Homo sapiens: one gene and its partner. The protein of the gene in region 1 interacts with the protein of each later gene in a pairwise test. Each region holds a gene or a part of one and is shown on either strand. Other genes may lie near its edges.

Region 1 (6,717 bases):
TGAATATGCCAGCACTCACAAGTCCCCTCCCATAGGCTCTGGATCTCTCGGCCCCCCAACCTTCCATCAAGGCCTGTCCTTCCTGTGTTTCATCTTAGCAGTACTCTCCGTGCTTTCCAAGGTGACAAATCTCTAGTCTCACAGGCAGATAGGAGGGCAGAGAAGCAGTCAACAAGCAGGCAGGTGAGCAGACAGCAGATAAGTCCTGGGCAGATAGGCAGCGAGGAGGTAGGGAGGAGATGGGCAGGTGGATAGTTGGGATGAGGGCCAGAACAGCAGGTGACACACGTGCAGAGATCCGAAGCGGGTGGCTGGGCTGACCCACGGACAGGCTGGTGGGCTGGGGAGCAGCAGGCAGTCAAGCAGCTAGGCAGGGGGTGGGGAGGGCATGTGGACCATGGGGACAGCCACATTGGCCAAAGGTTTCAGGGACCTTCCCCAGGGCCTCCAGGAGCAGTGCTTCTCAAAACCCTCCAGGGCAAGGCTGCCGCTTCTCCCACCTGGCCTGGCTTGGCCACGGCAAGCCCCTGGAGAAGACAGCACTCTGGTTAATGTGCGTCCCTCTCTCTGAAGCAACCAGCAACCATCATCTCAACCCTCATCCTGCTCCACTAGGGCTGAGTCATACCTGACCCACTCCAAACACATATGTCACATACCAACCCAGACACAAACATACTTTTGCCTGCAGGCAGAGATACAGAGAGCTGCGTAGCACAGAGGTGCATGGAAACAGCTTGACAGAAACAGATCCAAAATTTTAGACTGCACATAGAGGAGCACACATGTGGACTCTCACAGACACAGGTCTGTGCCACATGAACTGAGGCACTGAGGCACACAACACACGTAGTCATACAAGCACACTGTAGCACACACCGATATTCCCGTGGATGGCAGGCATTAAACATGCTCATGCACTCCCAGCAATGCTGCACATAAATAAGCTACCTGTGCAAACAGTCACTGACATACACCCCTTGAAGAAACAGGAATACAACCCACAGAAACTCAATATTGCTGATGGTCTTCAAATCTCGGCCAAGGCAGTGGGCAAATTCTGGCCTCATCTTCACCTCTCAGCCCAATCACACATGGCTGATCACATCCCTGTTCTGGCCTGGTTCTCCTTGCTGACTTCACCTCCAGGAGACCCCTCAATGGGCTCGAGCTTCAGACCCTTCTCTCTCTGCCCCCTTACCCCAGATGTTCGGTCTCATCCACTTCTGGGGTGGTAAATCCATCTTATGTGGTAAGGACTCTCAAATATCATTTTCAGCCAGATTCCTGGGGGTTCTACTTGCATTGCCAACACCTGCACCTGGATATCTAATGGACATTTCAAGTCTAACCTATCTACAGTGAAACTGACTACCCCCAAACCTGCTTCCCCACATGGGCTTTCCTCAGGTGCCCCAGCCCAGTATGAAAGTGTTCTAAACTCCTCTCTCCCTCACATTCAAGTCCAGTGCAGGAACTCCCTTCAGAACACCACCTGAGTCTGAGCCCTCTCGCCTCTCCACCGGCCCCGCCCTCACTGGCTTGGACAGCTGCCAGCCTACTCACCACCCTCCCTGCTCCCCTTCTTGCCCACAGTGGCCCACCCTACACTGAGCCACCACAGGGATCTTTCCAAAATGTGTCACAGGGCCATGACACTCCCCTGCTCAACGCTCCAGGAGCTCCCCACCACACTTACATTAAAAACCAAGCTCCTGGCCGGGCACGGTGGCTCACACCTGTAATTCCAGCACTTTGGAGGCCAAGGTGGGCAGATCACCTGAGGTCAGAAGTTCGAGACCAGCCTGACCAACATGGAGAAACCCCATCTCTACTAAAAATACAAAATTAGCAGGGTGTGGTTGTGCATGCCTGTAATCCCAGCTACTCGGGAGGCTGAGGCAGGAGAATCACTCGAATCCGGGAGACAGAGGTTGCAGTGAGCAGAGATCGCGCCTTTGTACTCCAGCCTGGGCAACAAGAGTGAAACTCCGTCTCAAAAAAAAAAAAAAGAAAGAAAGAAAGAAAAAGCTCATCAACAAGGCCATCGAGTCCCTGCACGGGCAGCCCCTGCCACTCTCCCCTGCACCCACACACCATCTGCGTGGCTTTCTTCCCTTGGAGGGAGGTATCCCAAGCATGTTCTTACTCCTGCCCAGACACTCTCCCCAGATCCTGGCACAGCTGCCTCCTCCTTAGGATTCAGGTCTCACTGTGGATGTCCCTGTGAGAGCCACTCCCAGGTGTTGTCCATCGCATTACCCTATCCTGTCATGCCCCCCAGCACTTAGAAGCATCTGAGATTATCTTCTATTGTTTCTCCAATTTAGTGTCAGCTCCATGAGGGCAAGGATTTGTGTCTGTTCTGTTTATTGTTAAATCCCCATTAAAACTATTCCTCAGGGCTGGGCGCGGTGGCTCACGCCCGTAATCCCTGCACTTTGGGAGGTCAAGGCAGGTGGATCACGAGGTCAGCAGATCGAGACCATCCTGGCTAACATGGTGAAACCCGGTCTCTACTAAAAATACAAAAAATTAGCCAGGCGTGGTGGCAGGCGCCTGTAGTCCCAGCTACTTGGGAAGCTGAGGCAGGAGAATGGCATGAACCTGGGAGGCAGAGCTTGCAGTGAGCCGAGATCGCGCCACTGCACTCCAGCCTGGGTGACAGAGCGAGACTCCGTCTCAAAAACAAAAACAAACAACAAAAAAAAAACTGTCCCTCAGTATTCTCAGGGGATTGGCTCCATGACCTCCCTCCCATAGACACCAAAATCCAAGGATCCTCAAGTCCTTGATGTAAAATAAATTGGTTCAGTATTTGCATTTAACCTATACACATCCTCCTGTATACTTTAAATCATCTCTTGATTACTTATAATATCTAATATAATGTAACCGCTATGAAAATACACTATTGGCCGGCATGATGGCTCACACTTGTAATCCCAGCACTTTGGGAGGCTGAGGTGGGTGGATCACTTGAGCCCAGGAGTTCAAGACCAGCCTGGGCAACATGGCAAAACCCCATCTCTACAAAAATTAGCCAGGCATGGTGGTGCACGCCTGTGGTCCCTCCCAGCTACTTGGGAGAATGAGATGGGAGGCTCACTTGAGCCCAGGAGGTAAAGGTTGTGAATGAGCTGAGATAGCACCTCTGTACTCCAGCCTGGGTGACAGAGTGAGACCCTGTCTCAAAGAAAAAAAATTAAATATATCTATTGTTTAGGAAATAATGATAAGAAAAAAAGTCTGTACATGTTCAGCACAGATGCAATTTTGGTTTTGAATATTTTTGATGCAAAGTTGGTTAAACCCACAGATGCTGTGGACTAGACTAGGAAGTGCTAGGCATACACAGTATTTGTTGACTAGTGGCTGCACAGATTTATATACAGACATACCCGCCCCCACAACAATACTCAAATACATCACATTAATAGACAAATATACAGATGTGGGCAAAAATACCTGCCCGCACATTCACAGAACACACTAAACAGTCACAAAGACACCCAGGAGTCCCTTTTCCATCCCCATAGGAGTCAGTCCTAGTCCTCCCCCATCTAGATCTGCCCTCTACTTGAACCCAGTCTCGGGACTGGGGGAGTAGGGGTCTGCAGCCCGGACAGGGAGAGGGTCGCTGGCCCACAGGCCTCAGGCAGCGCCTTCAGCTATGTCTGCAATTTCCTCTCCCCCTTTCCTCCTCCTCTCTAAGGCTCCCGCCAAGGCGGCCTCCCCCTCATTCTAGCTCCAGCAAGGGAGGGGAGGTCCATGATGGGGGGGCCCCGTGGAGACAGGGCAGAAGGAAGCCCCCCGCCACACACACTGATCACACACCACATTGCATGCACAAGCCCAGGTGGGAAATGCGTGTGTGAGCACAGGCAGGTTTAGCCTTGGGGTGGGGGACGGGATGGGGTGGGATCTGCCACAAGCCGCCACAAGCTGCTTGGTGCACAAGAGCGCAGGAGCTCGCAGGCACAGAGGCCCCACGCTGGGGTCTGCGAGACTGCTGGCCGGGCCCTGGCTCAAAGCTGGAGTCCAACAATCATTAACCCTGCGTGACTAGACCAGAGCTCGGCCAGGGGACACATTCAAGCCTGGGCCCTGGAAGGAGGGGTGGACAGTCCCCTCCCTTCCAGTCCAGCATGGGTCTGGGGAAGAGAAGCAGCTTTGCCTGGAAGGGGCCTCCTAGGAGGGGGAGCGGTGGTTTCTAGCTCAGGCTTTAGGATCAGAGAGCAGCAGATTCAAATCCTGACGGTTTTGGTAAAGTCAATTCAATCTCTCCAAGACTCCGTTTATTTGATCTGCGAAGTGGGGATAATGGTATCACGTCGCAGGGTTGTCAGGCGGAGTAAGTGAAAGAACCTGTCCAAGGTTTAGCCCTTGGCCCGCACGCAGGCAGAGCTCCAGCCTCTCTGTTGTTGCTGTTAGTGGCCTGGGGGCGGGTCCCTGCCGCGGCCTCCCCGGCGGTTTCCTGTGGGGGACGGACGGCCCGCGGGCCGGGCTCTCCCTCCTCCCGGCTGCCCGCTCCTCTCCCCTTCCTCTCCCAGCCCTTTTCCTCCCCGCCTCCCCGCCCGCCCCGCCCCGCCCCGTCCCTCCTCTTTCCTCGGAGGAAACTTTCCGCCGGCTGGTCCCTCGGTCCGTGTCCCGCCCGTGCTGCCGCGGCCTGGGAGCCCAGCGGGGCCGGAGGGGCGGCGGGACCCGAGCGGGCGGGGGCGGCCGGACCCAGTGTATGCGGCCGCGGGACGCGCTGGGGCCGGGCAGCCGGGAAGCGGGGCGCTGACGGTGAGTGGGCCTGGCCCCGGGCCGGTGGGTCCCCGCGGGGCGGCCGGGCGAGGAGAGAGGCAGCTTCCCTTCCCGGAGCCCGCCTGGGGCGTGGAGGCTCAGCGTCCCTATCCTCCATCCCGCCCCGGGACGGCGGAACCGGGCCTCAGCTGGGGACCTCACCAGGGGGCGGGGCCTCCCGCGGTCCCCGGCGCTGCTCCCAGGACTGGAGGGGCGTCCGCGCCCGGGAGAGGGGTTCCCCCCGACAGGGCCCCGGGCCGCCACGAAGTTAGGGAAGCGCTCTCTCCAGGGTGGAACCTGGGCCCGCGGCTCCCGGGAGAGGAGCTGCCCGCGGAAGGGGTCGGGGTGGGCTCCAGGCTGGGAGAAGGATCTGACTTTGCTGACCTCGCAGGCTGGTAGGGGAGCTGCCCCCCAGAGCAGCATGGATGCCCCGCGAAGGGACATGGAGTTGCTCAGCAACAGCCTGGCTGCCTACGCGCACATCCGCGGTGAGGGCGGGCGCCGGAAGACTGGGGGCCTGAACCCTTCCCTGACCACCATCCCCTTCCCTCCCCAGCGCCTTGTCCGTCCCCTCCGCCCCGCTCCCCGCCCTCTTGCCCGCTGGCGGTTCCCTAATGCCCTTCGAGTAGGGGTTACAGGCCTCGCCCCCACACCTAGAACCTGGGGTCTTTCGGAAGTGGGACAACCCCCACCCGTCCGGGCCTCTCCGTGACCCCCGCCCTGTGCCCCGCAGCCAACCCCGAGAGCTTCGGCCTCTACTTCGTGCTGGGCGTCTGCTTCGGCCTGCTGCTCACCCTCTGCCTGCTCGTCATCAGCATCTCGTGGGCGCCCCGCCCGCGGCCCCGGGGCCCGGCTCAGCGCCGGGACCCCCGCAGCAGCACCCTGGAGCCCGAGGACGACGACGAGGACGAGGAGGACACGGTGACTCGGCTGGGCCCCGACGACACGCTGCCGGGCCCCGAGCTGTCCGCAGAGCCGGACGGGCCCCTCAACGTCAACGTCTTCACGTCGGCGGAGGAGCTGGAGCGGGCGCAGCGGCTGGAGGAGCGCGAACGGATCCTGCGGGAGATCTGGCGCACCGGGCAGCCGGACCTGCTGGGCACAGGCACGCTGGGGCCCAGCCCCACGGCCACGGGCACCCTGGGCCGCATGCACTATTACTGATGGGCCCCGGCTCCCGCTGCAAGGCGCTCGGGGTACCGGACCTGCACATGAGCTCAGAGCTACCCCACACCTTCGGACTGCCTCGGCCCCCACAGCTCCCAGGTGCTACTGGGCGTGGACCGCCACCCCCTGAGAGGCTCCCTTCCCCAGTCCTGCCAGAAGACCCCGGGGGCGGGGAGGGGGCAGCATGCAGGGTCCCCACTCCCTCTCTGGGGTCGATGAAGAGGTGAAGTGACCAAATGAAAGAAAGCTGCATTCTCAGTGACTCAGTCTCTCCCTCTGTTACTCCTGCCCCCAGCGACCCCCAGGCTCCTGCCACGCAGGGGCCCCAGGACTGAGGCCCAGCTTGACTCCCTTACCCTAGCTGCACCACCCCCACCCACCAACCCGACGATACAGCACACCTGCCCGCATTCACTTCACAGCCAGCAGAAAAGCAGAAGCCCACAGGCCTGCACCCAGCCTCACACACAGAGCAAGCGCGCGCGCATTCCTTATTCAAAACGCATTCCTTACCGGCAAACGCCTGGACACACGTCGCCCTGTCCCCACAGTGCCCTGGGTTCATACACTGCAATGACACACACACCAGGCCTCAGGACCCTGACCTCGAGGCTAAGGTGCTGCTAGCCCCGGTGTAAGCATGCGTGCTTGGGCTGGACGGTGGACTTCACGTCTGCGCCGAGGTGCGTTCAAGCGAGAGGGCAGGAGTCCCTCTGAGCGGACAGGGAGGCCAGCTGGGAGGGGTCCGAGCTGGCGAGAAGG
Region 2 (7,000 bases), on another chromosome or scaffold:
TGAAATGAAAATAAATAATCCTCTACATTAGCGGTAGGTATAGAGAGCTGTCACAACTTCCTAACTCATCTCTCACCATCCGGTCTCTACACTGTCCAATAATTACAAAAAAAGGGAACTTCTAAACTGCAAATCTAATAAACTAGTCTATCTATTTAAAACACTGTCAGTGATCTTCTGTTGCTCTTAGGATAGAATCTAATCAGGGCTTCCGATATCCTGCCTAATTCTTTTTCAAGGCTTACAATATCCTGCCTAATTCTACCATCTCTTCCAGTGTGCACCATCACTCTATACTTACTGTCTTGAGAAGGTTATGTTACCTTTTGCCTTCAAGCCTGTGTGTGGGTTACTTCTTCCTCTTGGACCACCCTTGCTTTATCCCCATCTCTTCCACTCTTGCCCTCATCTGGCTCATTTCTATTTAAACTTCAGGTGTTAATTTAGCTGACAGCAATGCTACCTGGATTTCCAAAGTCTGGAGTATATGTCCCACTTTTCTCTTCCATGGCACCAGGTATTCATCATTACCCAACGAAATATCACACTAGACTATGGCAGAAAGGGGGCAGCAACTATGCTAACCACTACAGAGCAGTACCTAGCATGTCTATCATTTCATATTATTCAAATTATTCATATATATTCAAAATATTCCTTCATATTATTCAAATAGTTAGATCTTTCTTTCTCTCTCTCTCTGAAAACCTCCTTATTTTGGAGCTGCAAAGAAAAAAGGAAGATAACTTCATAACTATTCATTTGTGGGCTCAAAATGTCAGAATAGAAGAGGTACCTTGTATAATACCATGCATGTCAGACAGTAAAGTTAAAGTGACATAGTTGATCTCAAATACATCATTCTACATCCTTAATCATAGAATGACATTTCAAAAGTTTCAACTATTAATCTGTGGCATAAAAGACAGAATAATAAAAACAACAAATCAGACTCATAAAGTGGGAGATTATAAAACTCACAACCTTAGAGGAAGTAGGCCACTAAAATTACACGTTAAAAAAGAAAGTACATCACCCTTCCCGTGGTGACACATGTTTTAAGCAAATCACAAGTGAGCCGTAAATCACTTACAGGCTCACTTTACAATCTCATCTGTAAAAAAAAGCACCGAATCTAACAGAAGTTTATTCTGAGAAGGTAGTGTATTACCTCTTTCATCAAATAGAACAATGATTCTCATTAATGGGAAGATATTAAATGTGAGATTTTCAAACAACATGAGGTTTTCTGTTCTTTCTACAAATAATTCTTCCTCTAAGCAGGACATATAAGTAGAATGGTACATACTTTCATGGCTTGATGAAGCTTCTCTGCAAAGAAAGCTGGTTTGCTTGTGGCGCACTTCACTGTTAGAGAAGAAAATTTTAGTTGATGTATTTACCATGAAAAAAATGAAATATCCATATGAAAGAAACAGGAAATATAGAATTTTGCCAACAGTGTTCTATCCCTCATCATCATTCTTCACCTCTCATCTCCCAATATAGGGCAGTTAACTTCTGAGAAGGTATTTGTGACTCTCTAGATGGTGGTTTTGAATATTCTTTTCCCTGACGATCAATTTTTTTATTACCTTAAATACATCTCAAGAGCAACTTCAGTAGTTTGCGCTATCCAACATATATTCTCCTTGGGAGTGGAGAAGCCACTAGGTGTTCAAGCCTATGTAAATACTTTATTTATGTTACTATAAGAACATTTAAAAAGAACACCCTATGAACAACAGACACTGCAGACTACTAGAGAGGGCAGGGAGAGAAGGGGCATTGGTCAAAAAACTACTTATTGGGTACTATGCTCACTGCCTGAGTGCAGAACACCCATGGAACAAACGTGCACATGTACCTCTGTGTCTAAAGTAAGAGTTGCACAAACAAATAAGTAAAAATAAATGAATAAATGAAGAAAAAACTCTGGGATAGGATGGGCTTAAATATAAAACAGAACCCAAATAATACTAGCACATTCCAGTTCATAGTGTTCTTCATCTTGTCGAGATCTATGGACCAACAGCATTGGCATCAATGGGGAGCTTGTTAGAAAAGCAGAATCTAAGCTCCACCCCAGACCTGGGGAATCAGAATCTGCATTTTAACAAGCTTTCCAGGGGATTCAAGTGCATAGTCATGAATGAGAAACACTGCTTGAGAACATAGGTTCCCCAACCCTGATGGTTGTCTGAATAACCTGGGAGATCTTTAAAAAGTACCGATTTTTAGAGGCCAACTCGGACCCACTGAATCAGACTCTCCTGGACCTGCCCAAGATTGTACAATTAACAAGCAGTAGACCAGGACTTGAAGTTACATTTATCCAGATGTTACATTTATTCCAGATCCCATGCTCTCAGTGACCATTCTGAATTGCCTCTGTGGTGTGCCCAGCCTGGTACATTGTTTGATATAAGTAGGTGCTCAATAAGTATAGTCTATCTCTCTCTATTTTTGAAAAGGGGAATAATATCTATTGTTATTAAGGTTATAGTACTTTGCCAATCTTTTACGTTGCTTCAATTGAAACAGATGCACTACTTCTGATTGTTTTTTGTTTTCTTTTATTGGTTTTGTTGCTGTTGTTCTTGTTAAGTATAGGATAGCTTTGAAAATACAATTTCTAGTTAGAAAACTCTTTCAACTGCTGGACTACATACCGATAGCTGTGAGGCATTTCTCAATGTCACCTTTCAACTCCAGGTCCAGAACTTTGTTCATGTCATGCTTACTGTACTTGGTGTATTTCTGAAACACTGAATATTAAATTCAAACTAAGATACATGCAAAACATCCTTTTCTTTAGAAAGCTTTAGCAAAATCAAGGCAACTGACTCAAAGAATTTTTTAGAATAACAACTTTGGCTACACCTTTTAAAGCAATATACCCAATTAATCATAACGTGAATACTTCATCCTCTCCTAGGAATGTAACTTACCTGGCCATTTTGGTATTCCTATATATTTTGGCGAAATGTTTGCAAATGTTGACAGTTATTAGAAACGGCATGTGATTGACAACTATAGCACTTCCTACAGCAGTTCTAAGAGCCACAGCAAATGGATCTTCCCTTATATAAAGACCTGTGCACTAAATTTCTCTTACATTTAACAGTAGAAATCAGTATACTATTATAAGATGGTGAACTTTGGTAATTGTCATAACTTTTCCATCGCCTTCACTTCCAAGAGGCCCAGAGCTAAATCTTGCACTCAAAGGCCAGGACTTTTTCTGAGTTTTGTCTTGTTGTTGTTTTTCCAAAGCACCTACATATTTCTTTCTTCATTTAGCTCTGAGGGTTTTTTGTTTTTTTTTTTTTGTTTTTCTTCATTCTAATTTCATTTGTTCTGTTATGCATGTCTTTTCCCACACATATTCCAAATCTTTTAGGGGAGTAAAAGCAGTGAAAATAACAAAATTATGTTCCACATGCCCAAGTCACAAAATGTATTAAATATGATAAAGTAGCGGCTGTACAAAATTGGACAAATTGACAAATAACAATGGGTCAGGAACACTGTATCTGTTTGATACAGGAGTGATATTGAAAAAGGGTTCTGTTTTTACTTTCTCTTATTTGTCATCAAAAAAGAAAATTGCATCTTCCATAAACAGATTCCAGAAAAAGAAATTTATTGTTACCTCTGCGAAGTTGTGGATAGCTTCTGGTGGTAAGGATGGTATTGAACACGTTTACGTCTGTCCCCTTTCTCCTTTCTCCTGCTTCATACAAGGCCTGTCAAGAAACACAAAAGTAAACACTTCACTATCTGCTGAAATGATATCTGCACAATAATGTTAGACCTTGTCAAAGATTATATAGGCAATCGCTTTGTGCCCAATACAATCAGAGTAGTCAACAATAAGATTGCAAGTTCTTTAAAGATAGGGACCTTATTTTGTTTGTCAAATATCTTCCACAGTTTCTCTCAAGGTGCCTTGTAAACACTAGAGTCTGAATATATGTTTGCAGAATAAATGTTTGCTGAACTAAATTGCTTTAAGATTATGCTCTATAGTAAGACAACTCCAAGGGGATCTCTAAAGATTTTTTACTCTGTGTTGTTCAAAGTAATTATCAGCAAATGTTACTTATAAATCAATAATTCAACCGTAACCTGGACCTTGCATTTTGATGTTAGAATTTCTGTATTCAAATTCTGACTCTGCAATTTCAAAGCTGCATAATCTTAGACAAATAGATCAACCTTACTAAATGACAGATTTTTTTCTTTTATATATGAAAAATATAATCCCTGCCCTATTGTCACAAGCGGTCTTTATTAACTTTGAAATGTTGACTACCATCATTCTCTTGGGTCACACTAATCCATGTAACCTCCATAAATATATATTAAGAACCCTGATAGTCTTAAAATGGAAAGCAAATTCAGAAATGTCAAAAGCAAATAAGAATTTTTTATTATGGGCAATTATTCAAATGCTAACTCTTGTTCCTTAATATGCTTGAACAATTTCTATTAAAATGATAAAACCTTCAATGTATGTAAAAATTATTTTGCATTTTTCAAGCAAATTGATCTGATATGTATGCATTTGTTGAACAAAAAGTTCATGAGTGCCTATTATGTACATGATAATGTACTGGTATAGCAGAAGTGGATGGGGGTGCACAAAGAAATCTCTATCCTTAGTGAAGCACTGTAATGAATTCTCTAGAGAATACTGTTCCATGAGAAGGCATAATGCAAATATTAGTTGTTTGTTTGTTTTAAATGGAAATTCCAGGCTTTAAAATGATATGATTTTTCTTATGTTGCCAGTGGTTTGGCATATAAATAATCAGCAATGTCACTGAAACTAAATAAAACAATATGTTAGAAAGCATATATTATTATAATTTATCCTATACTCTTGTTATATCATTGCAGTAATATTTTGACAATATAAATTGACATCTATAAACCATTCCAAAGTTCTCTGTTAAAAATAACGTTAAATATGCTTACTCTTTCCATTGCACATAATAAAAAAATTACATTTCCCCTTCTTATACCTAGTACAACGAAAGGTCAGAGTTTTTTTTAACAAACAATTCTTGGGAATGACAAATCAAATTTGTATTGTCCTTCTTCAGTTCTCTCTGGTTTTACGAATAATGAGAGATATTGAAAACTTACAAAGACTACTTTTTTGTGTGTGGGGGCTACAGAAAGACATGCCTCATTCAGGAAATGAACATTAAGAAGCCATTGGTCTCTCAGAAGATCTTAGATTTGCTTTCACAGGGGATCATGTGGTAGCCCCACTTAAGGTAGGAAGATGAACTGCAGCAGTATTTTGTAAGCACTTCCTTACCCTGGCATCTGAATCAGCCAAGTCTTCATTCACACCAAAGTCCTCAGATCGGTCACCCTGAAAGAAATCCCATTCTATTGTAAGCTCTTCTCTAGCATGTAATTGCATGATTTACTTAATTATCTTAAACTCAGATAAATAATATTTTTTGAGAAAAAGGTATTCTATTACTCATTTCTAGAAGGAGCTCAGATACAAGATTTTACTTGCGATGGTTTTAGATGTTCTTCCCCTCCAAACCTCATGTTGAAATTTGATCCCCAGTGTTAAAGGTGGGGCCTAGAGGGAGGTATTTGGGTCCTGGGGCTGATCTCTCATGAAGAGATTAATGCCGTCACTGGGAATGAGTTCTTGCTCATGAGAACCACGAGAGCTGGTTGTTAACGAGGCTGGCACCTCCCCATTCTCTCTCTTGCTTCCTTTCTTGCCATGTGGTCTCTGCACACACCAGCTCCCTTTCCTCTTCTGTCAGGAGTGGAAGCAGCCTGAGGCTCTCACCAGACATAGATACCCAAACTTGAATTTGTTAGCCATCAGAATCCTGAGCCAAATAAACCTTTTTATCTTTAAAAATTACCTAGCCTCAGATATTCCCTTATAGCAACACAAAATGGACTAAGAAATTAGTCTTTATAAAACAAGAGGCATTTCCTAAAGTATCTGAGTTGTACCTTAGCAAGAGAAAGCAAAGCGTTCCGAAAATCTCCAGATGTGTCTGAGGTTATGTCTTTGGCCAGATCTCTCTTCAGTTCTGAGAAAAAAGAAAAATAGATTTTATAGTAAACCAGTGATGAATAATAATAAGAATATCTGACATCTCTAAGTTGGTTGAAAATTCACAGTGCCACAGTGTTCAATGACTTATGGAACATGTTGCAAAATATTATCATTTTTAAATAAGAAGAGAAAAATTAAAGCAGGTAAATTTTTGGATCATTGAATTTATTTCATATGAAGCAATGGGAGCAATTTAGATAATACTGTGATTGAAAACTCACAGTCATAAAGCTTTCGTTAAGAATAAATTGTATAGGTATACATTAGTAATTAATTCTGAAATACAACATGGCAGAATTTAAGCAATAGAATGAATAAAATAATTGTTTAAAAGAACAAAATGAGGTACTTGCTTGAATGCAAATTATTTATTTAGTTTAAAAACTATAAATGTCTTATAAGTAATGCAGTTTGATGATTTATGTGTGTGTAAACACTTCTGCTTAACTACATAAAATAATACTGTAATAGGAAAAAATAATTGAATTTATAATTGACTAGTGCTATGGTTTTCATATTGTTTGTTTGGCCCTGCCAAGTCTCATGTTGCAATTTATTCTCCACTGTTGAAGGTGGGGCCTGTTGGGAGATGTTTGGATGATGGGGGCAGATCCCTCATGAATGGCTCGGAGTGAGTTCTCATTCATAGTTTCTTTAAGAACTGGCTGTTGAAAAGAGCCTGGCACCTCCTTTTCTCTCTCTCCCTCTCTGCACACATCTGCTTCTGTCTGCTTTCTGCCATGAGTAGAAGTAGTATGAGGCCCTCATCAAAAGCAGACGCTGGTCCCATACTACTTGTACAGTATTTCCTTTCTTTTTACATTACTTGGTCTCAGATATTTCTTTATAGCAACACAAACGGACTAAAACAACTTGAAACTGGGCAATGTA

The links. The genes of interacting proteins can lie anywhere in the genome.
Region 2: the proteins of EVA1B (region 1) and ANXA1 interact in binary tests that used the Homo sapiens proteins (3 or more experiments, as listed by UniProt).

What each region holds. Positions count from the first base shown.
Region 1 is NC_000001.11:36,321,530-36,328,246, reverse strand, and holds EVA1B (protein eva-1 homolog B), read left to right. Parts: upstream 1-4,601; 5' UTR 4,602-4,788; exon of another isoform or gene 4,789-5,179; 5' UTR 5,180-5,209; coding exon 5,210-5,276; exon of another isoform or gene 5,277-5,521; coding exon 5,522-5,952; 3' UTR 5,953-6,217; downstream 6,218-6,717. Other genes in the region: SH3D21 (SH3 domain-containing protein 21), read right to left, coding at 367-527, 6,469-6,523.
Region 2 is NC_000009.12:73,161,865-73,168,864, reverse strand, and holds part of ANXA1 (annexin A1), read right to left. Parts: intron 6,084-7,000; coding exon 6,004-6,083; intron 5,390-6,003; coding exon 5,333-5,389; intron 3,750-5,332; coding exon 3,656-3,749; intron 2,769-3,655; coding exon 2,673-2,768; intron 1,369-2,672; coding exon 1,310-1,368; intron 1-1,309. UniProt on the Homo sapiens protein: Plays important roles in the innate immune response as effector of glucocorticoid-mediated responses and regulator of the inflammatory process. Has anti-inflammatory activity.